7 linked regions of the Homo sapiens genome follow. The protein of the gene in region 1 purifies or fractionates together with the protein of each later gene. This does not show direct contact. Each region holds a gene or a part of one and is shown in the gene's direction. Other genes may lie near its edges.

The links.
Region 2: the proteins of CDK8 (region 1) and MED1 purify together in Homo sapiens (affinity purification with mass spectrometry; 16 studies listed by BioGRID and IntAct, with this or other methods). This does not show direct contact.
Region 3: the proteins of CDK8 (region 1) and MED4 purify together in Homo sapiens (affinity purification with mass spectrometry; 11 studies listed by BioGRID and IntAct, with this or other methods). This does not show direct contact.
Region 4: the proteins of CDK8 (region 1) and MED21 purify together in Homo sapiens (affinity purification with mass spectrometry; 15 studies listed by BioGRID and IntAct, with this or other methods). This does not show direct contact.
Region 5: the proteins of CDK8 (region 1) and MED18 purify together in Homo sapiens (affinity purification with mass spectrometry; 6 studies listed by BioGRID and IntAct, with this or other methods). This does not show direct contact.
Region 6: the proteins of CDK8 (region 1) and MED20 purify together in Homo sapiens (affinity purification with mass spectrometry; 10 studies listed by BioGRID and IntAct, with this or other methods). This does not show direct contact.
Region 7: the proteins of CDK8 (region 1) and MED16 purify together in Homo sapiens (affinity purification with mass spectrometry; 12 studies listed by BioGRID and IntAct, with this or other methods). This does not show direct contact.

Annotation. Positions count from the first base shown.
Region 1 is NC_000013.11:26,351,629-26,355,128, forward strand, and holds part of CDK8 (cyclin-dependent kinase 8), read left to right. Parts: intron 1-2,111; coding exon 2,112-2,252; intron 2,253-3,500.
Region 2 is NC_000017.11:39,441,264-39,444,763, reverse strand, and holds part of MED1 (mediator of RNA polymerase II transcription subunit 1), read left to right. Parts: intron 1-1,135; coding exon 1,136-1,214; intron 1,215-3,500. UniProt on the Homo sapiens protein: Component of the Mediator complex, a coactivator involved in the regulated transcription of nearly all RNA polymerase II-dependent genes.
Region 3 is NC_000013.11:48,088,605-48,092,104, reverse strand, and holds part of MED4 (mediator of RNA polymerase II transcription subunit 4), read left to right. Parts: intron 1-1,686; coding exon 1,687-1,753; intron 1,754-3,500. UniProt on the Homo sapiens protein: Component of the Mediator complex, a coactivator involved in the regulated transcription of nearly all RNA polymerase II-dependent genes.
Region 4 is NC_000012.12:27,025,558-27,028,365, forward strand, and holds part of MED21 (mediator of RNA polymerase II transcription subunit 21), read left to right. Parts: intron 1-862; coding exon 863-977; intron 978-1,789; coding exon 1,790-1,890; intron 1,891-2,727; coding exon 2,728-2,808. UniProt on the Homo sapiens protein: Component of the Mediator complex, a coactivator involved in the regulated transcription of nearly all RNA polymerase II-dependent genes.
Region 5 is NC_000001.11:28,332,040-28,334,252, forward strand, and holds part of MED18 (mediator of RNA polymerase II transcription subunit 18), read left to right. Parts: intron 1-2,213. UniProt on the Homo sapiens protein: Component of the Mediator complex, a coactivator involved in the regulated transcription of nearly all RNA polymerase II-dependent genes.
Region 6 is NC_000006.12:41,918,340-41,922,498, reverse strand, and holds the start of MED20 (mediator of RNA polymerase II transcription subunit 20), read left to right. Parts: upstream 1-1,359; 5' UTR 1,360-1,480; coding exon 1,481-1,494; intron 1,495-1,555; exon of another isoform or gene 1,556-1,699; intron 1,700-4,159. Other genes in the region: BYSL (bystin), read right to left, coding at 669-936. UniProt on the Homo sapiens protein: Component of the Mediator complex, a coactivator involved in the regulated transcription of nearly all RNA polymerase II-dependent genes.
Region 7 is NC_000019.10:869,188-872,687, reverse strand, and holds part of MED16 (mediator of RNA polymerase II transcription subunit 16), read left to right. Parts: intron 1-569; coding exon 570-762; intron 763-1,434; coding exon 1,435-1,651; intron 1,652-3,500. UniProt on the Homo sapiens protein: Component of the Mediator complex, a coactivator involved in the regulated transcription of nearly all RNA polymerase II-dependent genes.

The DNA of each region.
Region 1 (3,500 bases):
ATTATACTTCAGCAAATTTTATTGTGGGTAATATTGTACAGTGCATATAACTAGTTCATTAGCTTTATCATCATCTTAATAATATTTAAGCCAAATAAATATTTTTAATGTTCATTTTCATAAAAAACAAATGATAATTTAGCCTACTAAAACCCACTCCTTTATCTATTTTAATTGGAATGTTGAAGTGAATTGGTAGGGGTTAGGCAGCAGAGGGTAACAAGGCAGTCGCAATAAAAATAGTTATTTTTAAAAATCACTTAGGCGTTGGTGAGATTTCATGGTATGTATATTTTGCATTTGTTATGTAGCCCTGGAATATAAAGAAAATGACAGTAGGATTTGTCATTTTAAAACATTGGTAAAAAAAGTCACTTGTAATACTCTAATGAAAGTGTACATGAAGAAATATATATGAAATTGATTAATTACCTTACCTCTCCTACATATTTGTTCCTTTGATTCTTACTGCGGCAGAGTTTTAATTTTTTTTTTTTCAAAAAATTAACCTATTTTATTTTTATTTATATTTATTTTACCTGTTTTTATTAAGCTTGGAGAGAGCCAAAGAATCTTCTTCTTGTTTTTTTTGTTTGTTTGTTTTTGAGATGGAGTCTCGCTCTGTCGCCCAGGCTGGAGAGCGGTGGCAGGATCTCCACTCACTGCAAGCTCCGCCTTCCAGGTTCACGCCATTCTCCTACCTCAGCCTCCCGAGTAGCTGGGACTACAGGTGCCTGCCACCACTCCCGGCTAATTTTTTGTATTTTTTAGTAGAGACGGGGTTTCACCGTGTTAGCCAGGATGGTCTTGATCTCCTGACCTCGTGATCCACCCGCCTCAGCCTCCCAAAGTTCTGGGATTACAGGCGTGAGCCACCATGCCCGGCCCAAGAATCTTCTTCTTAAGGAGAACAGACTTGATTGTCACATCATATTTTAGGACAGGTGACAAAACAGCCTAGATTATTAAATTGTTGTAGCTCTGTTTTGTTTGCCTGCTATTAAATACTTTGAAAAAAAGACTGAGAAGAAAATTAAAGTAGATTAATGCTGCTAATTTAGATTAGTCATACTACATATGTGCAAACTGCTACACTTTACCTTCTCGTAGATATTTGCTATATATTTTTACCTTGGAGAGTAAAGCTCCTTTATTCATTAATCATTAGTTATTCCTTACTTGTGTCATATTCTGTATATCATAAGAAAATAGCAAGTGAAAATGTTAACTTATAATGTTAAATATCTCTTATTTTTATTATGTCTACTAATTTCAAGAACATGCTTAATATTTACTTACATGTATTGGCCAAGGGTCTGCTCTGTGCAATATTAGGTTCAGGGATATGTACAGTGGTGTGCAAGGCATAGTTTACTGCAGCCGAGTTATAGATTTTCCTGCAATTTAAGAGTGATCTAATTAAGAAAATGAGTCCTATCAAGAGCATTTGAAACTTTTCAAGAAAAAACTTGTAAGGCACATTTATTCATAAAGTAATTTTTCTATGTATAAAGTTGTGCTTTGTTTTACTGGATGTCTAACAACATTATACATAGAAAGCTTTGATGGATGGTACAAGGCAGTTTTTATTTTCCTCAGAATCTTTCCCATTTTTACATTTTTCCATTGTGAACTGGTATATCATTTCTTTGTGCTTGTGTGTATTTTATTGAAGCATCTCCCCACTTGCTTTCTTTATAACCTGTGTCATAAATAGGTTCTAATTCTATGCTATGTCAACCAGCCAGAAGTATCTCTTGAATTTTGTTCTTTTTTTTTTTTCATTTTATCTACCAGATAAACAGGAATCAAGTATACTCTGAAAGTAATTGATTTTTAATTATGCTTTAAAAATAAAAGCACAATATTTTCTGATTCCCTATTGTGATAATTTATCTCCTGAAATGCTGTCATATGGGTAGGAAATGGAATTTTAGCCCCAGTTATTAGGGAATTTTAAAGTTGTTTATGTTATTCAGCAGAGTACGAAATTATATTTTCAATATCTATGGGAATCCCTGAGTGTTTCTTTTTCTGTTAGGAAAATATTATACATCAAATTATCTTTTCCTTTTTTTAAGCTTCTGTTGATATTTTTTTCTTTCTTTCAGCATATAATCAAGTTTCACAGAGCTTCTAAAGCAAACAAGAAGCCAGTTCAGTTACCTCGGGGAATGGTGAAGTCACTATTATATCAGATCCTAGATGGTATTCACTACCTGCATGCTAACTGGGTGTTGCACAGAGATTTGGTAAGTTGACCTGTAATTGGTTTAAACTAGAAAGATGCATTACAGTTGGATACTTTTCTAGTCGTCTGTAGATACCAGTGCTATATGTAGGCCTGCAAACCTTATAGAAGTAGTGAGAATGCTACCTTCTCAAAACATGGCCTAGTAGTGTTTTTATATAATGCCTCCTGCTTCTCTGACATACACTAGATGGTATTTATTTCAAAGTGAAAGAAGAGACATTTGTGTTCCTAAGCTTCTGTTTCCTTTTAAGTTCATAAATAAAGCATTGGCTTGCTTTAAATTGATTATTAGATACAAGGCCAACTGTAGAAATTTATATATTTATAATAACTTGAAAATAAAATTTTGGGAGCCTACTGCATACTAATTTACATATTAGAAAAGGAAAATGTTAATTCAATATGCTTATATTTTAAGCCCCTCTATATTAGCAGTCTGTTGGCCAATCACCTTTATTAATCATAATTGAAGTATATTATTAGAAGCCTTGCTGTGTTCAGGTGCATTGAACTTTTGAGAATTTAAAAACTTAAGAAACTGACTTTTTAATTTTACGTTGCAAAGTCATTTATGCCTTTTTTCACCCATCTTGCACAGGGGTCCCCAACCCCCAGGCCACAGACCAGTCCATGGCTCATTAGGGACCAGGCCACACAGCAGGAGGTGAGCGGTGGGTGAGCATTACCACCTGAGCTCCGCCTCCTGTCAGATCAGTGGCAGCATTAGATTCTCATAGGAGCCAGAACCCTATTGTGAACTGCACATGCGGGGGATCTAGATTGCACGCTCCTTATGAGAATCTAGCTAATGCCTTATGATCTGAGGTGGTACAGTTTCATACTGAAACCATCCCCTCCCACCCCGCTCCGTGGAAAAACTTCTTCCATGAAACTGGTCCCTGATGCCAAAAAGGTTGGGGACTGCTGGTCTAGCATATTATTATTCATTAAATTTTCATGGATTTAAATTACCTAAACTTCAAATTGCCCTTTCTTACTACATAATTACATTGCTTTTATAGTTCTTTTCTTTGTAAAGATAGTAACTATATAATAAGGTTTATAAAGGCACCTTCATTTCAAACAAATATAAACACAATGCTAAAAGTGATTATTTTGTCTCTAATCACCTGTATACAAAGGAAATATCCTGTAGGCTATGAGGCGGAGCCCATCTGGTCTCTCGCAAAGATGTTCTTCACAAATTTAGTGGATTTAGTCTCTGGCCTTCAATGTGCTGTTCCAG
Region 2 (3,500 bases), on another chromosome or scaffold:
CTGAGTAGCTGGGACTACAGGCGCGTACCACCACACCTGGCTAATTTTTGTATTTTTAGTAGAGATGGGGTTTCACTATGTTGGCCAGGCTGGTCTCGAACTCCTGACCTCATGATCTGCTCGCCTTGGCCTCCCAAAGTGCTGGGATTACAGGCGTGAGCCACTGCAACCGGCCTCAAACTAGGCTAAGTTTTTGTTCTTTGGAAGTCCCTTTTCTGGACTACATGTTCTGTTTCTTTTCTTTTTCTTTTTTTTTTTGAGACAGAGTCTCTCTCTGTCGCCAGGCTGGAGTGCAGTGGTGTGATCTCGGCTCACTGCAACCTCCGCCTCCTGGGTTCAAGTGATTCTCCTGCCTCAGCCTGCTGAGTAGCTGGGACTATAGGCGTGCACCACCACGCCCAGATAATTTTTGTATTTTTAGTAGAGACGGGGTTTCACCATTTTGGCCAGGATGGTCTCAGTCTCTTGACCTCGTGATCCACCCGCCTTGACCTCCCAAAGTGCTGGGATTACAGGTGTGAGCCACCGCACCCAGCCTATATGTTCTGTTTTTTAGAGTCAATCTCATTTTCTTAAAATTTGGTTGTGTTTCTCAGATTACATGCAAATCACCTTGTTAAATTTGTACACTACCAAATCTCCTGAGCCATCTTATTTAACTGTTTATATCTTAGCATGTGGTCACTTCCACAGGCGGCAGATCTCATGTATTACATTTTGATTCTTCCTAATATTTCTCTAAAGGTTTTTTTGTTTTAGATGTGGAAATACAACGTTTTCTTTTTTGTTTTTGACTAAATAGAAACAGGATCTCTCTATCTTGCCTTGGCTGGTCTCGAACTCCTGGACTCAAGTGATTATTCAGCTTTGGCCTCTCAGTGTGCTAGAATTACAGGCATGAGCCACGTGCCTGGCTGAGGAATACCTTTTTCTACACTCATATATATGGATTTTGCATGGATGGACAGAGTAACACTTGTAGACCAGTGTTACTCTATATAGTCTACAAAATCTATAGACTATATTGAGTCTATAGACTGTCCTGCAATATTACTACTAGGATAATGTGTATGTTTACCTAAAACACTGTTGGCCTGGTTAATTTTCACCTCAAATGTTTTCCCACTTGACACAGGAGAAGAGGGTTGTGATGAGTTCTGGAGGGCATCAACATTTGGTCAGCTGTTTGGAGACATTGCAGAAGGCTCTCAAAGGTTTGTGAACACTTTTGAAATATGCTGATTTCACAAAACCCCCAGTTCAAGAAGGACCATTTTATACTTAAACTAGAAGTAAAAAATTGAGGTAGGTCAACTTTATGTATTAGATATTGCTCTTGCATTCATTTATGGAGTTGGAATGATCTTTTTGCTAAAGTTTGAAACATTTATTTTTGATCCTGTTTTGGAGGCTGATAGAGATTTAAAAGATAAATGATGAAGGGTAATATAAGATACCTGGGGAGGCTGGGTGCGGTGGCTCGCTCCTGTAATCCCAGCACTTTGGGAGGCTGAGGTGGGCGGATCACAAGGTCAGGAGTTTGAGACCAGCCTGGCCAACATGGTGAAACCCTGTCTCTACTAAAAATACAAAAATTAGCTGGACGTGGTGGCGGGCACCTATAATCCCAGCTTCTCGGGAGGCTGAGGCAGGAGAACAGTGTGACCTGGGGAGGCGGAGGTTGCAGTGAGCCAAAATCACGCCATTACACTCCAGCCTGGGCAACAGGGCAAGACTTGTCTCAAAAAAAAAAAAAAAAAAAAAAAAGATACCTGGGAAAAGTTTTTTTTCCCTTCACATTTATTTCTGATTAATCTCGATAAGAAGATGGACTTTTTTTTTTTTTTTTTTTTTTTTTGAGATGGAGTTTCACTCTTGTTGCTCTGGCTGGAGTGCAGTGGTGGAATCTCGGCTCACCACAACCTCTGCCTCCTGGGTTCAAGCGATTCTCCTGCCTCAGCCTCCCAAGTAGCTGGGATTACAGGCATGTGCCACCATGCCCGGGTAATTTTATATTTTTAGTAGAGACAGGGTTTTCCATGTTGGTCAGGCTGGTCTCGATCTCTTGACCTCAGGTGATCTGCCCACCTTGGCCTCCCAAAGTTCTGGGATCACAGGCGCGAGCCACAGCAACTCGCGAAGTTTTTTTTTTTTTTTTTTTTTTTCCGAGACGGTGTCTCACTCTGTCACCCAGGCTGGAGTGCAGTGGCACAATCTTGGCTCACTGCAACCTCCACCTCCTGGGTTCAAGCGATTCTCCTGGCTCAGCCTCCCAAGCAGCTGGGACTACAGGCGCGTCCCACCACGCCTGGCTAATGTTTTGTATTTTTAGTAGAGATGGGGTTTCACCGTGTTAGCCAGGATAGTATAGATCTCCTGACCTCGTGATCCACCCGCCTCGGCCTCCCAAATTGCTGGGATTACAGGCGTGAGCTACCATGCCTGTCCAGAAGATGGACATTTTAACTCTAAAAAGATTTTTACGGTGTTTATGGAGCAAATTTCCAGGAAAGCAAATGTAAAATATAAGTCATGAGCTTGATTATTCATGCTTATAATGACTAATTCTATTTTTGGGGAATAATGAAAGTAAAAACAGATTTTACTGTGATCCACCAGAAATGAACCTAATTCAGCTGAGGGTTTTTTTTTTTTTTTCTGGAGACAGTGTCTCACTCTGTCGTCCAGGCTGGAGTGCAGTGGCACGATCTCTGCTCACTGCAACCTCCGTTTCCCGGATTCAAGTGATTGTTCTGCCTCAGCCTCCTGAGTAACTGGGATTACAGGCGCCCATTACCATGCTCAGCTAATTTTTGGATTTTTAGTAGAGATGGGGTTTCACCATGTTGGCCAGGGTGGTCTTGGACTCCTGACCTCAGGTGATCTGCCTGCCTTGGCCTCCCAAAGTGTTGGGATTACAGGCGTGAGCCACTTTGCCCAGTCTCAGCTGAGTATTATCTTCTTTACCTTTTTTTGTTTTCTTTTTCTTTGAGACAGAGTGTCGCTGTGTCACCCAGGCTGGAGTGCAGTGGCACGATCTCTGCTCACTGCAACCACTGCGCCCCCACCGGGTTCAAGAGATTCTCTTGCCTCAGCCTCCCGAGAGGGTGGGATTATAGGCGCGCACCACCACACCTGGCTAATTTTTGTATTTTTATTAGAGACAGGGTTTCACCACGTTGGTCAGGCTGGTCTTGAACCCCTGACCTTGTGATCCGCATGCCTCGGTCTCCGAAAGTGTTAGGATTACAGGCGTCAGCCACCGCACGAGGCCTTTTTTTCTGTTTTAATTGTGGTAAAATATAGGTAACAAAATTTACCATTTTCTTTGTTTCTAAGTGTATAGTTCAGTAGCGTTAAGTACATTCATATTATTGTATAATCATCACCACTGTCCATCTGTAAAACTTCACTCATCTTCCCAAGCTTACATTCTGTAATGTCCCATTCCCGCCTTCCCCCAGTCCCTGGCAGCCACCATTCTGCTTCCTGTCTTTATG
Region 3 (3,500 bases), about 22 Mb from region 1:
AGAATGAAACACTAATCTTTACCATAACTATAAGGCCCTACGTAATCTCACCCCTAGCCACCTGGCTGCTACATCCTCACTTTGCTTTCCTCTCCCCATTGTGCCAGGCCCTGGCTACACCTCCTCAGCTCCATCTTTGGGGCACTGAACTGTCTGTGTCTTCTACTGTGCTCTTTCCTTCCAGACATCTTGGCTGACTTCTCTCATTTAATCCGTGTCTTATGTCAAAGCTGTGCCCTTAGGAAGACCTTCTCTGACCACCCTATTGAAGTAGCCAACCCACTCCCCCAGTAGTCTCTAATAAAACATTGCTTTATTTCCTTCCCAACCCTTATCACTCTAGGTTTATTTCTTCTCTTAGTTCTTCTTGTCTCTTGTATTAGAATTTAAGTGCCATTGTTCACTTTGATACCCCAAGTATCTAGAAAGTGCCTGGCACATGATAGGCACTCAATAAATATTTGATGAATTAGTGAATAAATGAAGACTTTGCATTCTTATATCTACTTTTTTCATTCATTGATTAATTCATAAATAATGGTATGGGGAAGTAGTAGTGGGAAGGGTTGGGTCTAATTGACATGATCCAGAAAAATGATATGATGCTAGCTGGAAGGAAGGTGGAAATTTGAAGGTAAAAATAGCCTGGTAGCCAGTGAGAAAGTACAAATGCTCAGGCTGATCAGAGCAGTGTCAGGTAGCTAGTTGTGAAGCTGCCCCTTCTGCATAATTTCTCAAAAGTCCCATCTATCAACAAGTTTGAAACTAATATATAAACATTACCTGCTATACATTTTTCCCAATCTTATTTTGCTCATCAGATACTAATTTTCATACAGGGAAATTGTCATATTTATTAAATGAGCATTCTAAAAGGATATCATTTTATTATGTGTAAGGATCCCTCTTAGTTGATGTTTAATTTAAAAAATTCAAATAAAGTGGAGAATCATTAAAAAATGGTCCATGCATCCCTTAATTGTTTTATTTTACCTTAAAATATATAAACATATGTTCATTCACTAATCATGTTATGTAAGACAGGAGTCAGAAAACTTTTTCTGCAAAGGCCAGATAATAAATACTTTTGGGTTTATGGGCCATATAGTCTCTGCTGTAACAACTCAACTCTGCCTCTGTATTTAGGGAAAACTGCCATAGACAATTTGTATATTAATGGGCAGACTGTCTTAGGAAAATGTTATTTACAAAAACTGCAGAAGTGCTGGATTTGGCCTGTAGACCCCTGATGTATGAGTTTTTCTTGCATAAATCGCTCATAATGCATTGTCTGCAATTTGTAGTTTGATTTCTAGATCAAATCAAAATGAGAACTTATCCTCTTATCAAGCAGTCTTAGGGCAGACCCTTAGTTTTTATGACTTTTCCCTGGTCCTTTCTTTATAGCTGTCCTTTGCAAGCCTCTGTAGAGTCTTTCCAAGCATTAGGCTTAGGTTTTTATAGAAAGAACTCTCTCTATTCACAATAGTCTTTCATTGGCATTTAGGTGATAGCTATTTATATAATGATAGTATTAAGTAGAACTTTTATAAATAAGTTTGGTAACCGGCACAAGCGAGTCTTGGTGAGCTGTAGTTCACAGTCAATAGCGGACTGTAGGGAGTAGCCCTGAGTGTTCAGTATGCTGTGAAAGGGTTTTTGTTGTTGTTGGTTTTTTTTTTTTAGGGAACTTATAGAAATGCTGGCAATTTCAAGAAACCAAAAGTTGTTACAGGCTGGAGAGGAAAACCAGGTAAGTGGCTTCTTTTTAAATTAGTTAATTTCTCTTTGTTTTTTAATTAAAAGAAAAAAACTTGATTTCTGCAAGTTTCCTCTTTATATTTACTTTGTGTGGGAACAGGAATGTTGGATCCTTTTAAGTTATTAATTAAAACTTTAATATTGGTATTTTCTTTGTATCATTTACTTAAGATAACAGTGCGCTTAAGAAGAATAGTTGCCTGAGGGTTTAGCAGTATTTTGTTATTTTCTCTTACAATTCTAGTCACACTTACATGTTTATTTATTTTTGTCCTTTGAATTAACCAAGAAAGGCTTGTTGTATGGAGATTACAACAATATTTAGAATCAAAAGTTAATGCTCAAAAACTTACCGTGTATTGTAAGTATAGTTCCCTAATGCAACTTGAACATGCAGGGAAATAAAAGAGCATACAACTCTTATTAGACATTGCCTTATAGGGGTGAAAGTACGGGCAGTTTTTATTTGCTCACTTTTCGGTGCTTTCTAATTTTCCATGGTGGGTGAACAGACTTTTTTTCCTGATTCAGAATTTTTTTAGAGGTAAGAGGATAAATTTTATATTATGTTTTTGGCACAGTTTTTTCTTTTTTGAGACAAGTTCTCGCTCTGTAGCCCAGGCTAGAGTGCAGTGGCATGATGACTGCTCACTGCAGCCTCAACCTGCTGGACTGAAGCGATCTCCCACTTATCCTCACCAGTATCTGGGACTATAGGCATGCGCTATAATGCCTTGCTAATTTAAAAGAAATTTTTTTTTTTGGTAGAGACATAGTCTCACTGTGTAGCCCAGGTCAGTCTTGAACTGTCTTGAACTCCTGTCCTCAAGGGATCCTCCCCACCTTGGCCTACCAAAGTGCTGGGACTATAGGCATGAGCCACCATAGCTGGCCAAAAAAAATGTTTAAGAGAAAATGAATGGAGAGGATTAACCTTTCTAAAGATGATGTAAAGGAGAAGAGGAGACAGTAATAAATCTTTTGTCTGCATCATTACCTTAGTTCTGTCTTACGTTTTGAGGGCAGGGAAATCTGACGGACTCAATAGAAAAGTGTCAGTGAGCCTCAAAAGGGGAGGAGGGGATCCAGATGAGGCCACAAGCTAGGAGAAACAGCTAACCTTAGGGGTAGTAAGGTTTTTGTTTTGTTTTTTTTCAAAAAAGAAAGAGGCTAGAGATAAATATGTTAATAGAAGACTACTAGTCTCTCAGGTACTCTGTTAATACCCGTGGGATTAAATAGGAATTTATACAAAGTATGCAAGAAGTAAAATGCAAGGCTTGACTTTATTTGATAGACACTTATTAAATGCTTGCTATGAGCCAGGCACACAGATTATTCAGAAGGTGATAATTAAGACCTATAATCAGCACTGATCTTTCTTGCACTTTTTAAAGAGTAGCAATTTGTGAATTGTGTCTTAGTACTGTGGATTCCTATGTAATTTTCATTGAAACTGTTACTATTAGAGAGGGATGTGCCCATTTGAAAATTTTCTAGCCACCATTTTATTTGGATATTTATAATTTTATATAGAATTTTAGAATTAGAAAGGATCTTAACGATGTTCAGTTCAACCTCCTGTGAGAATAAGCTCCAGGGTGGACGGATGAGGTAGAGGTTAATGGTGAGTGGAACCAGAACCTAGGTCTTCTGACTTTAGTTGAATAATTTTTTTCTACTGAACAATAAGATCTAAAGAGAATATTTTTTACTCATGGGTAGTATACAAATTAATT
Region 4 (2,808 bases), on another chromosome or scaffold:
AGAGAAAGATTTGTAGTATTAGCAGAATATGAAGATCAAAGGAAAGTAAGAATCTGAAGTTAGATTGGTTGACTAGGAGACTTTCAATACAAATTAAATATTAAAAAGAGGAAACAGTTGCCTTTGAGTTCTGTCATTGAAACAATGGCAGAGAAACCCAGTGGAAATACTTATTAGAAATAGGAGGTTTGAGAGGTCAAGACTAGGTGAGAGAAATTGGTAGGGAAGATAGGTGTATTTAATTTGGAGATGGTAAGGAATTGCTATTCCCAATCTTTAAAAGTACTTAAGGAATACTTTTAGAGTACAAGAGTTTACAAATTGAGTCTTGAACAAATACATTTCTGCTTACTTAAGGTGCTTTTCTGAGCAGCCTCTTCCTCACTATTTCTTTACACTTGTAACTACTCCAGTCTCAGAAAAGGAATCATATACTTTGTGCATGAGAAATAAATTTTTATTAAACATGGTGCCATAGATATTTACAAGTCAAATTTGCTCTTTTCCATCACTATCCCCAAAAAGTCTTTACTTGTGGCTTACAATAAGTATTGGCCAATATTCTCTTATCATTTTACTATCACAAGAAAAGAAAGATTATTTTGTATTTCAACTGTTTCAACTAGATTTATATCAAATTTAACTTTACCTAGATTGATACCAAACTTAGTTTCTTTGCAGAATTAAAACGTTTAATCAACATTAATAATAACTGGCTTATTTTATCAACAATCACTCCTTTCTGTTTTATTCCCTTGCTCAGAGATTATCATTACAGAAACTTATTGTTGTTGCCATTACCAATAAAGTCCTTAAAACTGATAAGTCCTTTCTAACCTTGATATGTTTTCTTTGGCCTAAGCTTGCAGATCAGTTTTGTAATGCCATTGGAGTATTGCAGCAATGTGGTCCTCCTGCCTCTTTCAATAATATTCAGACAGCAATTAACAAAGACCAGCCAGCTAACCCTACAGAAGGTAAACAGGTTTTCTTAGCTTCTCTTAGTTTGACTCTCACATTTTTTGTAATCCTTTAAAATTAGATTTCTTGAGAAATTCAGCTTATTTTATTTCTAAAATTATTGTTGTTTGAGAATATTACAAGTTTTGTTTGTTGTAAAAAATTTACAGTCAATTCACCTAACATCTCATAATTCTGGTTCATGTCAGATAATAGATTGTTACTCCTTTAGAGGAGAATTTGTATTAATTTAGCTGAGTGAGGGACCTTAACAAGGAAGGCATCCCATTTATAAATTTCTTTATTCAGGTGACCACTATATTGTCATAATAAATGAAATTACATACATTATGCTTAATTCCCAATTTGAGCTAAATGTGTAACAGGATTGGTGTATATTTTAATCATTAGAATCTTCTTTTTTTTTTTGAGACGGAGTCTCGCTCTGTCACCTAGGCTGGAGTGCAGTGATGCAATCTTGGCTCACTGCAACTTTCGCCTCCCGGGTTCAAGGAATTCTCCTGCCTCAGCCTCCTGAGTAGCTGGGATTACAGGCTCATGCCACCACGTCTGGCTAATTTTTGTATTTTTAGTAGAGATGGGGTTTCACCATGTTGGTCAGGCTGGTCTCAAACTCCTGACCTCGTGATCCGCCTGCCTTGGCCTCCCAAAGTGCTGGGATTACAGGCGTGAGCCACCACGCCTGGCCGAATCATTAGAATCTTAGGGCAGAAAAAGCTATATGAAGTTTCTGGTTTCATTAACTTAAAATTTGTTTCTGAAAACTTGAGGTTTTCTAATATCCTAATCTAGCAGTATCTTTCTCTAGAGTATGCCCAGCTTTTTGCAGCACTGATTGCACGAACAGCAAAAGACATTGATGTTTTGATAGATTCCTTACCCAGTGAAGAATCTACAGCTGCTTTACAGGTAAGCCTCTATTCCTTTGAGAATTTTACCAGTAATAGAGAATTTTGAATTAAAGGAGGTAGATTTAGTACCTTTTGTCTGTGTCCATTTGTGCTGCTATAACAACATACCTGAGACAGTAATTTATAAAGAACAGAAATTTATTTTCTCACAGTTCTGGAGTCTGGGAAGTCCAAGATCAAGGCATTTATTACTCACTGTGCATGAGTAATGAATTTTTATTAAACATGGTGCCATGTTTAGGGCCATGTTGAGGGCCTTCTTCCTGTTTCCTCACATGGCTGAAGGCAGAAGGGCAAAAGAGCAAGAGCTCCCTCTTCAACCTCAAGCCATATTTTAAGGGTACTAATTCCATCTATGAGATCTCTGCCTTCATGACTTAATATCCTCTTAAAGGCCCCTTCCCTCTTAATACCATCACATTGGGGATTAGATTTTAATGTATGAATTTTGGAGGGGATGCATTCAAATCATAGCACCTTTTGTTATAATATTCAAATTTCCATTATAAGGAAACCTCTTATTTTCCTCAATTTTGTCTCTTTTCCTAGTGAAGAATGAGAGGAGGGTGGCATTCTACAATTGGAGTAGAATAATGGTGTCTAAACGTAATGTGTAAGGGAGTCACTTAAAGATATCTAGAGATCTCTAATTGAAAAGTCATTCTTTTTAATAATTCACATGGGGAAAATTCTTAAAAGTTGTCTGATTTTTAGAATTTCTTTACTGAAAAACATATCACAATGATTGCAAAGTCATCCAGATTTAAAAATAAGTACATCTGTGACAGCTTCTCTTTCTAAACTCTAAAGATTTTAAAATTTGTGTCTTATAAAGGCTGCTAGCTTGTATAAGCTAGAAGAAGAAAACCATGAAGCTGCTACATGTCTGGAGGATGTTGTTTATCGAGGAGACATG
Region 5 (2,213 bases), on another chromosome or scaffold:
GCCAGATTTTGTAAACAAGTATCTGAATATGTTCCTAACATTTGAGCCATAGCCATGGAGGCAGAAAGATGACTAAAAAAATGTATGTCAAGCCAGCTGTTACAGGCTTATGCCTGTAATTCCAGTTGTTTGGGAGGCTAAGGCTGCAGTACTGCTTGAGTTCGGGAATTCAGGATTAGTCTGGACAACATAGCAAGAACTCATCTCTACTAAAAAAAAAAATTAGCTGGGCATGGTGGTGCGCACCTGTAGTCTGAACCACTTGGGAGGCTGAGGCGGGAGGATCACTTGAGCCCAGGGGATGGAGGCTGCAAAGAGTTATAATCACGCCACTGCTCTATAGCCTGGAGACAGAGTGAGACCCTACCTAAAAAAAAAAAACAAAACTATGCCATAAAAATAAAGCAGGAAAGTGGCTAGAGATTGGTAGGACACATACTATTTTATTAGGGTGATCAGAAAAGGCCTTGATGATAAAGTCACTTGAGCAGAGACCTGACAAAAGTGATAGAGTAGACATGCAGATGGGAAGAACATCCTAAGCACAGAGAATAGGAGAAGGGGTGTGGCAGGAAGGTCACTCCTGGAGAGAATGATCAAGGGGAGGAATAGAAGGAGATGATGTTTGGCAGGTAGCAGAGACCATAATATGTAGGGCCTTGTTGACAACGGTAAAGATGTTGGCTTTTATTCTGAATGACACAGGAAGCCACTGTAGTGTCCTGAGTAGAGGAGTGTTATTATCTGCCCAATAATTTAATAGACCATTTGGCTTTCATATGGAGAAGAGAGGAAGAAGGCAAAGGTAGAAAGAGGCGATTGCAAAGACCAGGCAAGAAATGAGGGTGACTTCATTTGAAGGGACTAGGTTGAAGTGACCAGATGAGTGAGAAGTGATTGCATTCTGCATTTATTTCAAAAATACGGATTCAATGGAGGGTATGAGAGAAAGAAAGAGGGTGTGAGTCAAAGATGATTTTCTGGTTTTTGGCCTGGGTAACCAACTAAAAACAGAGAGTTGCCATTTACTGTGATGTTGAAGACTGTAGGGTGAATAAGATTTTGGAGGAAAAAATCAACAGTTTGATATTGAACATGTTAAGATAAAGATGTCTGTTAGGCATCCAAGTGAGGAAACTGAGTAGGAAGTTGGATGTTTTCATCTGTAGTTCAGAGATAAAAACGTGGGAGTCCTCAGGGCCTAAATGATATTTAAAGCCATGGGACCAAATAAAGTCACCTAGGCAGGAAAAGAGTATTGATACAGAAGAGGACCAGGATTGAGTCCTAGTCCTCCAGTGTTTGGGGAAGATGAGAGAGACCAAGCAAAGAAGACTTAAACGGAATGGTCAGCAAGTTAAGTGAAGACAAGAAAGTTGTGTCTCAGAGGCCAAGGGAAGAATAGATTTCATAGTGGGTATAATCTACTGTAACAATTATGTCAGATGTTGCCAAGAGGATGAAGATTCTATGAAGCAATTCACTCTCTTCTACTTACATACAGAAGAGGAAAACTTTTCCTGATAAAAAGGAAACTTTAGCCAGGTGCAGTGGCTCCATGCCTGTAATCTCAGCACTTTGGGAGGCTGAGGCAGGCGGATCACGAGGTCAAGAGATCGAGACCATCCTGGCCAACATGGTGAAACCCTGTCTCTACTAAAAATACAACAATTAGCTGGGCGTGGTGGCACACGCCTGTAGTCCCAGTTACTCAGGAGGCTGAGGCAGGAGAATCGCTTGAACCCAGGAGGTGGAGGTTGCAGTGAGCTGAGATCGCACCACTGCACTCCAGCCTGAAGACAGAGCTAGACTCCGTCTCAAAAAAAGCGGGGGAGACTTTATATTTCTTCTATAAATGGAAGACTTTGATTTGTTGGAAATAGAAGGCAATTGTTAAAATATATAACAACAAAATAGTGTTATTGGCTGGGCATGGTGGCTTGTGCCTGTAATCCCAACACTTTGGGAGACCAAGGCCAGGAGTTCAAGACCACCCTGGGCAACATAGTAAGACCCCAACTCTACAAAAATAAATAAATACATAACTAAAACAGTATTATTACATTCTAGATAGACACTGTCGCTGATTAAAGGCTCTAAGCCCCAGGCCTGCTGGAGATGAGCATTAGAAGAGGCCTAAAGACTTTGTAGTGCTAAATAAGAAAATTCCAAAAAAATTGAAAAGGAAAATAACTTTCTCACAACGTTATACA
Region 6 (4,159 bases), on another chromosome or scaffold:
TCAAATATTGCTTTAGATGAGATCTGAGAAACGGATGAAGCACCTCAGAGGTCAACACTCCCTCCCTAGTGAGAAAACATCAGACGTCTTTCAATTCATCTCTCTCGCTCTTTGGCTGCTAAACAATGTGTTTTCTGCTCATAACACTTCCCATTCGTTTTTCAGTTCTCAGCTTAAAGGTCCTGCTGCAATCGGAGAAGCTTCTCAAGACCAATGCTATTGTTACCAGGGAAACGATACTTTATCATGGAAATATATTATTCTAAGAGTCTACTTAATTGCCTCTCTGCTGGGCTTGACTGTAAGGTCCTTAAGTTAGACGTGCCTGTGTTGTTTACTTCTGTACCCAAACATTCGATAGAATTCCGAGCATAGCGCAAAGCTCGTAGTGGGTATCCCATAAATATTTACAAAACCAATGGATACATGCTAGGAGCACTTAGTGGCGCGATCGATTACTGTTGGCCTAACTTCGGGGGTGTCTAGAAGGGAGTGCCTAAAACTAGGAGTGGACGCGGAGGGCTCTAGACAGGGTTCAGTCTCCTTTGCAAGTGTAATACGGACCCCTTTGTTGACTCGAAGCAATTCCCCTGCCAGACACTTTTTAGCTGCCCACCCCGCCCCACTACTGGCCACTGTCTTCCTCGGACCTCATCCCAGACACTCACCCAGCCGCGTGGTGCGTTCCCGCGGCGCCGCGGGCTTGTCCCCAGTCCCATGCTCGGCCTCGAGTTCCTCCTGTTGCTGCCGTGCTTGCTGCAAAATCCGTCGGCTCAGCCGGGGCCCCACATACTCTTCCTCCGCTTCTCCTGTCCCGCGACCCCGCCGCTTCTCCCGGACCCCCGCCCGCACCGCATTCCCAGCCAGGATCTGATCGGCCAGGGGCGCATGTTTTTCCTGACCCCCCACCCCACGGGCCGCCTTGAATTTGGGCATTTTTCTCGAAAAAGTTGCCGGGAAGGATCGCACGTGGGGACTGAAGAAAGGCCAGGATGCGCTTGCGCGGTGGACTCCCAGCGCCCAAGAGGCCGCCCGGCGATCACAGCGCCCCCTAGCATTCGGAGGCCAGAAGCGCCATCAGCGCCGCCCCTCCCACTAAAAGAGCTCCCGGGTTCCGGAGCTGGACTCCCGAATATATTCACTGCCTTTAACGTTAGCTTCTCTCAATAGTGCAGTCTTTGAGTGTCGCTCTCCTAGCTTCATGGATGTAGGCCTAGAGTGCTCAGCCAAACGGGAATGTCTGGATTTAGAAACCTCGGGGCGGGAATCCGCAGATGATGTCAGTGGAGGCGTCACCGAGGGGTGCCGAGACACGCCCCATTCCTTGGGGAAGGCGTGGACCCGGCGCTCTGTTTTTACGTATTTCCGGAGTCCCTTCTGAGACAGAAGGTTGTGTTGGGGAACTGAAGGAGTTTCTGTGGGCGGACAGGGAACCCTGCGTTTCTACTGTGTGATTCTGCCACCTTCCTGGCCCGACGCCATGGGAGTGACTTGGTAGGACTGCAGGGGGTTTTGTGGGGCGGGGCTTGGAGTTGTGAAAGGCCGGAAAGAGGACCTTGACCATGGTCCGCCGTCCTCTGGGAGCTGAGGGAGATGTCCTCGGGTTGTGTAGATGAGAGGATGCCGTCCGGGCTGCGGGTTCCCCGGGCTTGTTTCCTCAGAGATGCGCCCCTTCCTCTTGGAAGGCGGGAAAGCAAAGGTTTTTTTTTTGTTTTGTTTTGTTTTTTTTAAGACGGGGTCTCGCTCTGTCGCCAGACTGGAGTGCAGTGGAGCGATCTTGGCTCACTGCAACACTCCGCCTCTTGGGTTCAAGCGATTCTCCTGTAGTCCCGAGTAGCTGGGACTACAGGCGCCCGCCACCACGCCCGGTTACTTTTTGTATTTTTAGTAGAAATGGGGTTTCACCATATTGGCCACGCTGGTGTCGACAAAGCAAACTTTTTATCCCAGGAACCTATCAATGGTTGTATACCTCATTCTCTTCTGGATACATCTTCCTTCCCGTGAGGCCATAGTACTGCCTGCAGTGGGACCTCAGGGTTGGAAATAGGGTCTTTGGACTATGACCCACCTGCAGACAGGGTTGGAGGGAGTGGGCCATAAGCAATCAGGAGATAGTATTTTTTAAGATTTTCGCCTGCTCTTCCCTCAGCCATCAAATACAGTTAGACCCGCTTGTGTCTGTTTCTAATTTGCTCATTTTAAGATCTTGGGTCTAGAGGAAAAAAGGGTATTGATAATAAGGAGATCATGGTTCCAGGCACTTTATCTCTTTAGGACCCGTTTCCCACTATGTTTAATTCCATGGTTGGTCTAGTTTCAATGGAGTTTTTATCTTTCATATGTTTTAAGTCTCAGTTGAAAGAAGATGAGGTGGCAGGGAAAGGTATGGGTCCAGTGCTCGTGGAGGCGTTAGTTGTAAGGTGCCAGGTCCCAGAACATTTTTTTCTTATCTCAGTAGATGTGAGCATTTTTCCCGTGGGAGAAATCCGGAGGCCAGGATATTTGAAGCCAGTGGATATAGGCTTCTCATACAAAAGCATGTGTAGGGGAAATACTTTTCCTCCTGGTAGCCCAGGTTCTTGCAGGTTTCTCAGTGATTGCACTCTTGCTTCCTACGATTGACACGATCCTCCTGTGTTCCTTAATGGAAGCAAGATATGTGAGGAATGGAAATGGAAAGGATGCAGCGTAGAACCCTGGAACCCTTGCTCTTTCTTTTTTTTAAAGAAATAGAAATGGGGTCTTGCTGTTTTGTACATGCAGGTCTTGAATTCCTGAACTCAAGCGAGCCTCCTGCTTTGGTCTCCCAAAGTATTGGCATTATAGACATGAGCCACCGTGCCCAGCCACCCCTGCTCTTTAAATGGAGAAGGCAGCTCCAGGGAAAGGGCTCTCTGTTGGCCCCCTTATCAACGTTTTCAGAATCCTAGGACTTCTGTCACTTGTAGCGTCAGTTTAGGGATTCTTTTGTATTTCAAAATAAGGCACATTAGCAACATCGTTTATCAGTGTTTTTTTCTGATAGAGTAGTGACAATTTTTAGCAACAGAAGGACTCTACCTTAATAGATTCATTTAGTTGATCATAAAGCAATGTCATCTATGACTGTTTTCTTGATTTCTATATAGCTAAGTACTGCTTGTACTATTGTTTATTAATTTTTTAATCGATTTTCCTTAATGTTTTAACAGGCACTACATCCTTATACAGGCAGTCTAGTTAGTGGTTAAGAGCATGGACATCAAGCCAGGTTGCTGGGCTTTGAGTCTTGAGTGTACCACCCATTAACTGTGTGACCTAGTGCAAGTTATTTAACCTCTTTGTGCTGTACTTAAGTTTCCTCTTTTTTTTTTTTTTTTTTTTTTTTGAGGCAGAGTCTCACTCTGTTGCCCAGGCTGGAGTGCAGTGGCGTGATCTCGGCTCACTGCAAGCTCCGCCTCCCGGGTTCATGCCATTCTCCTGCCTCAGCCTCCCGAGTAGCTGGGACTACAGGCGCCCACCACCATGCCTGGCTAATTTTTTTGTATTTTTTTTTTTTTTTTGAGACGGAGTCTCGCTCTGTCGCCCAGGCCGGACTGCGGACTGCAGTGGCGCAATCTCGGCTCACTGCAAGCTCCGCTTCCCGGGTTCACGCCATTCTCCTGCCTCAGCCTCCCGAGTAGCTGGGACTACAGGCGCCCGCCACCGCGCCCGGCTAATTTTTTGTATTTTTAGTAGAGACGGGGTTTCACCTTGTTAGCCAGGATGGTCTCGATCTCCTGACCTCATGATCCACCCGCCTCGGCCTCCCAAAGTGCTGGGATTACAGGCGTGAGCCACCGCGCCCGGCCATTTTTTTGTATTTTTGGTAGAGACGGGGTTTCACCGTGTTAGCCAGGATGGTCTTGATCTCCTGACCTCGTGATCTGCCCGCCTTGGCCTCCCAAAGTGCTGGGATTACAGGCGTGAGCCACCGTGCCTGGCCAAGTTTCGTCTTTTTTTTTTTCTTTTTGAGATGGAGTTTCGCTCTTGTTGTCCAGGCTGGAGGGCAGTGGTGCGATCTTGGCTCACTGCAACCTCCGCCTCCTGGTTTCAAGTGATTCTCCTGCCTCAGCCTCCCATGTAGCTGGGATTACAGGCGCACACCACCATGCCTGGCTAAGTTTTGTATTTTTGG
Region 7 (3,500 bases), on another chromosome or scaffold:
CCTGACCAGGGCTCCAACCTCGCCCCCACCCCCCCGCCGGTACACTCTGTCCTGCCCCAGCTGTGATTTCTTCTGCCCCACCCACCCGGCTTCATCCTGCCCTGGGGCCCGCCCTTCTCCACCGCGCCCATCACGGACGGTTTGAAGTCCCTCTCTTCTTTTTGTGGGGCTTTAGGCTGCCAGGGGCCACCCCTGGGGCCTCCCTTCCCTGGTCCTCTCAGCTCCCAGTACAGTCACCAGGGGCCCGGGCCCGCAGCTGTAGGAGGGGGCGGCTGCTCCTCCACGTGCAGGTGGGGATATTGGCCTCAGCCAGAGCCTCGTCTTAGTCTTGTGGACTCTCAGGGATGGGACGACTCTGCAAATGGGGCTGTCCTGGGCCCTGCAGGGCTCTGAGCAGCGTCCCCGGCATCCACCCACTCGGTGCCAGAAGCACCCCAGTCCTGACCACCACAAATGTCCCAGACCCTGCCCATTGCCCCCCGGTCGGGGTTCCACCGACCCCAAGACACTTCATCCCATCGCCATCTGCCCCCCGCCGCCCCAGCCACACCGATGCCTCTTTCGGGCAGGGTTCCCTGCTGAGGCCGGGCCACAGCTTTCTGCGGGACGGCACCTCGCTGGGCATGCTTCGGGAATTGATGGTGGTCATCCGCATCTGGGGCCTTCTGAAGCCCAGCTGCCTGCCCGTGTATACGGCCACCTCGGATACCCAGGACAGCATGTCCCTGCTCTTCCGCCTGCTCACCAAGCTCTGGATCTGCTGTGAGGCACCCCCGCCCGCCCCTCCCCTCTCCCCGCTCCCCGCTCTCCCCTCTCCCCGCTCCCCGCTCCCCGCTCTCCCCTCTCCCCGCTCTCCCCTCTCCCCGCTCTCCCCTCTCCCCGCTCTCCCTTCTCCCCGCTCTCCCCTCTCCCCTCTCCCCGCTCCCCTCTCCCTACCAAAACACAAGTCCTGCCTGAGCCCCCCGCCAGAACATAAGCCCCTGCAGGTGGCAGTGGCTCTGCCTTGATATCTGCTATTTCCCCAGTTCCTAGCACAGGTCCATGCTCTGTGTGGGTGCTTTTGGGATGGCAGCCACTTCCAGGCACCTGTTTGCTGTCTCTCCTTGTCGGGTTGTGTGTATGTGAGGAGGGTGAGCTGTGTCATTCTTACATCCCAGTGTCTGGAAAAGGCACAGTGCTTCCCACATACTTTTTAAGTGAATGAGGGAGTCTCATGACAGGCCAGAGACGGGGAGAGAACTCTGGGGTCACCCAGCCAGGCAGGCAGAGCCGGGGCCCCGACCTGGTGAGAGAACCCCGGGGTCACCCAGCCAGGCAGACAGAGCTGGGGCCCTGACCTGGTGCTCCTGAACTGGAGGGGCTCCCAGCACGTCCCGGGTGGCCGGGCGGTGCCCCAGTCAGGGGTGCTGAGACTTCCGCCACCTCTCTCCGCAGGTCGCGATGAGGGCCCAGCGAGCGAGCCGGACGAGGCGCTGGTGGATGAATGCTGCCTGCTGCCCAGCCAGCTGCTTATCCCCAGCCTGGACTGGCTGCCAGCCAGCGACGGCCTGGTTAGCCGCCTGCAGCCCAAGCAGCCCCTTCGTCTGCAGTTTGGCCGGGCGCCCACGCTGCCTGGCAGTGCTGCCACCCTGCAGCTCGACGGCCTCGCCAGGTGCGTGTGTCCCTGCATTGGTCCCCAAACACAGGACTCCTTCCTCCGTGTCCTGCCCCGGGACCCCCGAATCCACACGGCTCCCTCCCTGCATGTCCTGCCCCAGGTCCCCCCGAATCCACACGGCTCCCCGCCTCCATGTCCTGCCCGGGACCCCCCGAATCCACACGGCTCCCTCCCTCCATGTCCTGCCCCGGGACCCCCCGAATCCACACGGCTCCCTCCCTCCATGTCCTGCCCCGGGTCCCCCCGAATCCACACGGCTCCCTCCCTCCATGTCCTGCCCCAGGACCCCCCCGAATCCATACGGCTCCTTCCCTCCATGTTCTCCAGTCATGGCCATGACTGCTGCTTCCTTCTAGGTGCCCCTAACTCCATCCCCTAGTGGTGTCTTCTGCTGTGTCACGAACCACCCCCAACACGGGCACCCAGCCCTTCCATTCACCCTCTCCCTTTTTTTTTTTTTTTTTGTCTCCCCGACAGGGTCTCACTCTGTTGCCCAGGCTGGAGTGCAGTAGTGCCGTCTTGGCCCACTGCAACGTCTGCCTCTCGGGTTCAAATGATTCTCCTACCTCAGCCTTCCCAGTAGCTGGGATTACAGGCATGAGCCACCACACCTAGGTATTTTTTGTATTTTTGGTATAGAGGCGGTTTTGCAATGTTGGCCAGGCTGGTCTTGAACTCCTGACCTCAGGTGATCCACCTGCCTCGCCCTCCCAAAGTGCTGGGATTACAGGTGTGAGCCACCGCCCCGGCCTTGCCTTGGTGTTTCCTGATTGTGTGTTGGCCTCGCTGTACAGGGCGCCCTGCCTTAGCCTCTGCCCTTAGTCTCTGGCCCCCCTGGATGTCAGGCCTCGCCGTAGATCCCTCTGTGGATGGAGAGAGACGCCTTAGCATATGGCCCAGGGCCCTGCTGAGCAGACACCTCATCAGGAGGATCTCCCGGGGGCAAGAGGTCACCTTGCAGGGCCCGGGGCTGGCCTTTCTCTGGAATGTGCGGGGTTTGGGCAACCCAAGTGTGCTGAGCTGACCCTGGCTGCCCAGCAGCCCTGTGAGGTGGGACCTTGTCACCCCATTTCACGGTGAGGAAACCCAGCCTGGAAAGGGTGGGACCTTGTCACCCCACTCATCTGGGGTCACGCGGTCAGGAAGTGGCCGAGTCAGGATTTGAACCCAGGCCCGTCAGACCCCCAGCCTGTTTCAGACACACGTTTGACAAGGAGCACATGCAAACCCTCTGAGCCACTGATTGCTCAGGGCTGGAATTTTAGAAAACACAGATGAGCAAAAGGAAGAAAATGAAGTGAACCTCCAGCAGCCCTGCTCCGGGGAAGGCCCCGGCTCGGCTCCAGGACCTCCAGGGAAGGCACCCCCGGCTTGGCTCCGGGACCTCCGGGAAGGCGCCCTGGCTTGGCTCTAGGACCTCCAGCATTTTCTTCCTCGTGCTCACTGTGGGAGGGGCCTCCTAATGAGTCACACACGAGGGTTTGGGTTTCAGGAAAAGACTTGATGGAAAGAGAGGACGGTTACGTCAGAGGCTTGTAAACTGGGAAAATTTCAGATATTTAATGAGAGCAGAATAAGCCGGCCCACCCCCACCCAGACCCAGGTCCCCCACCCACCACCGAGGGCAGCTTTTGCCACCAGAATCTTGTCGTTCAGAGGTCCCGGCACCTCCAGGCCGGGTGTCTGGGCAGAGGTGGTGTGGAAGTCCCCATGTACCTGCTTCTGTCCAGCCTCAAATGGGAGCGTCACAAGCACCTTCCCTGCACCTCAGGCTCCCCGGGCACGTGGCGGACCGACCCTCGTCCCTGTGTGGGCCCCGTCCCCTTTACTGGGTCTCTAAGCC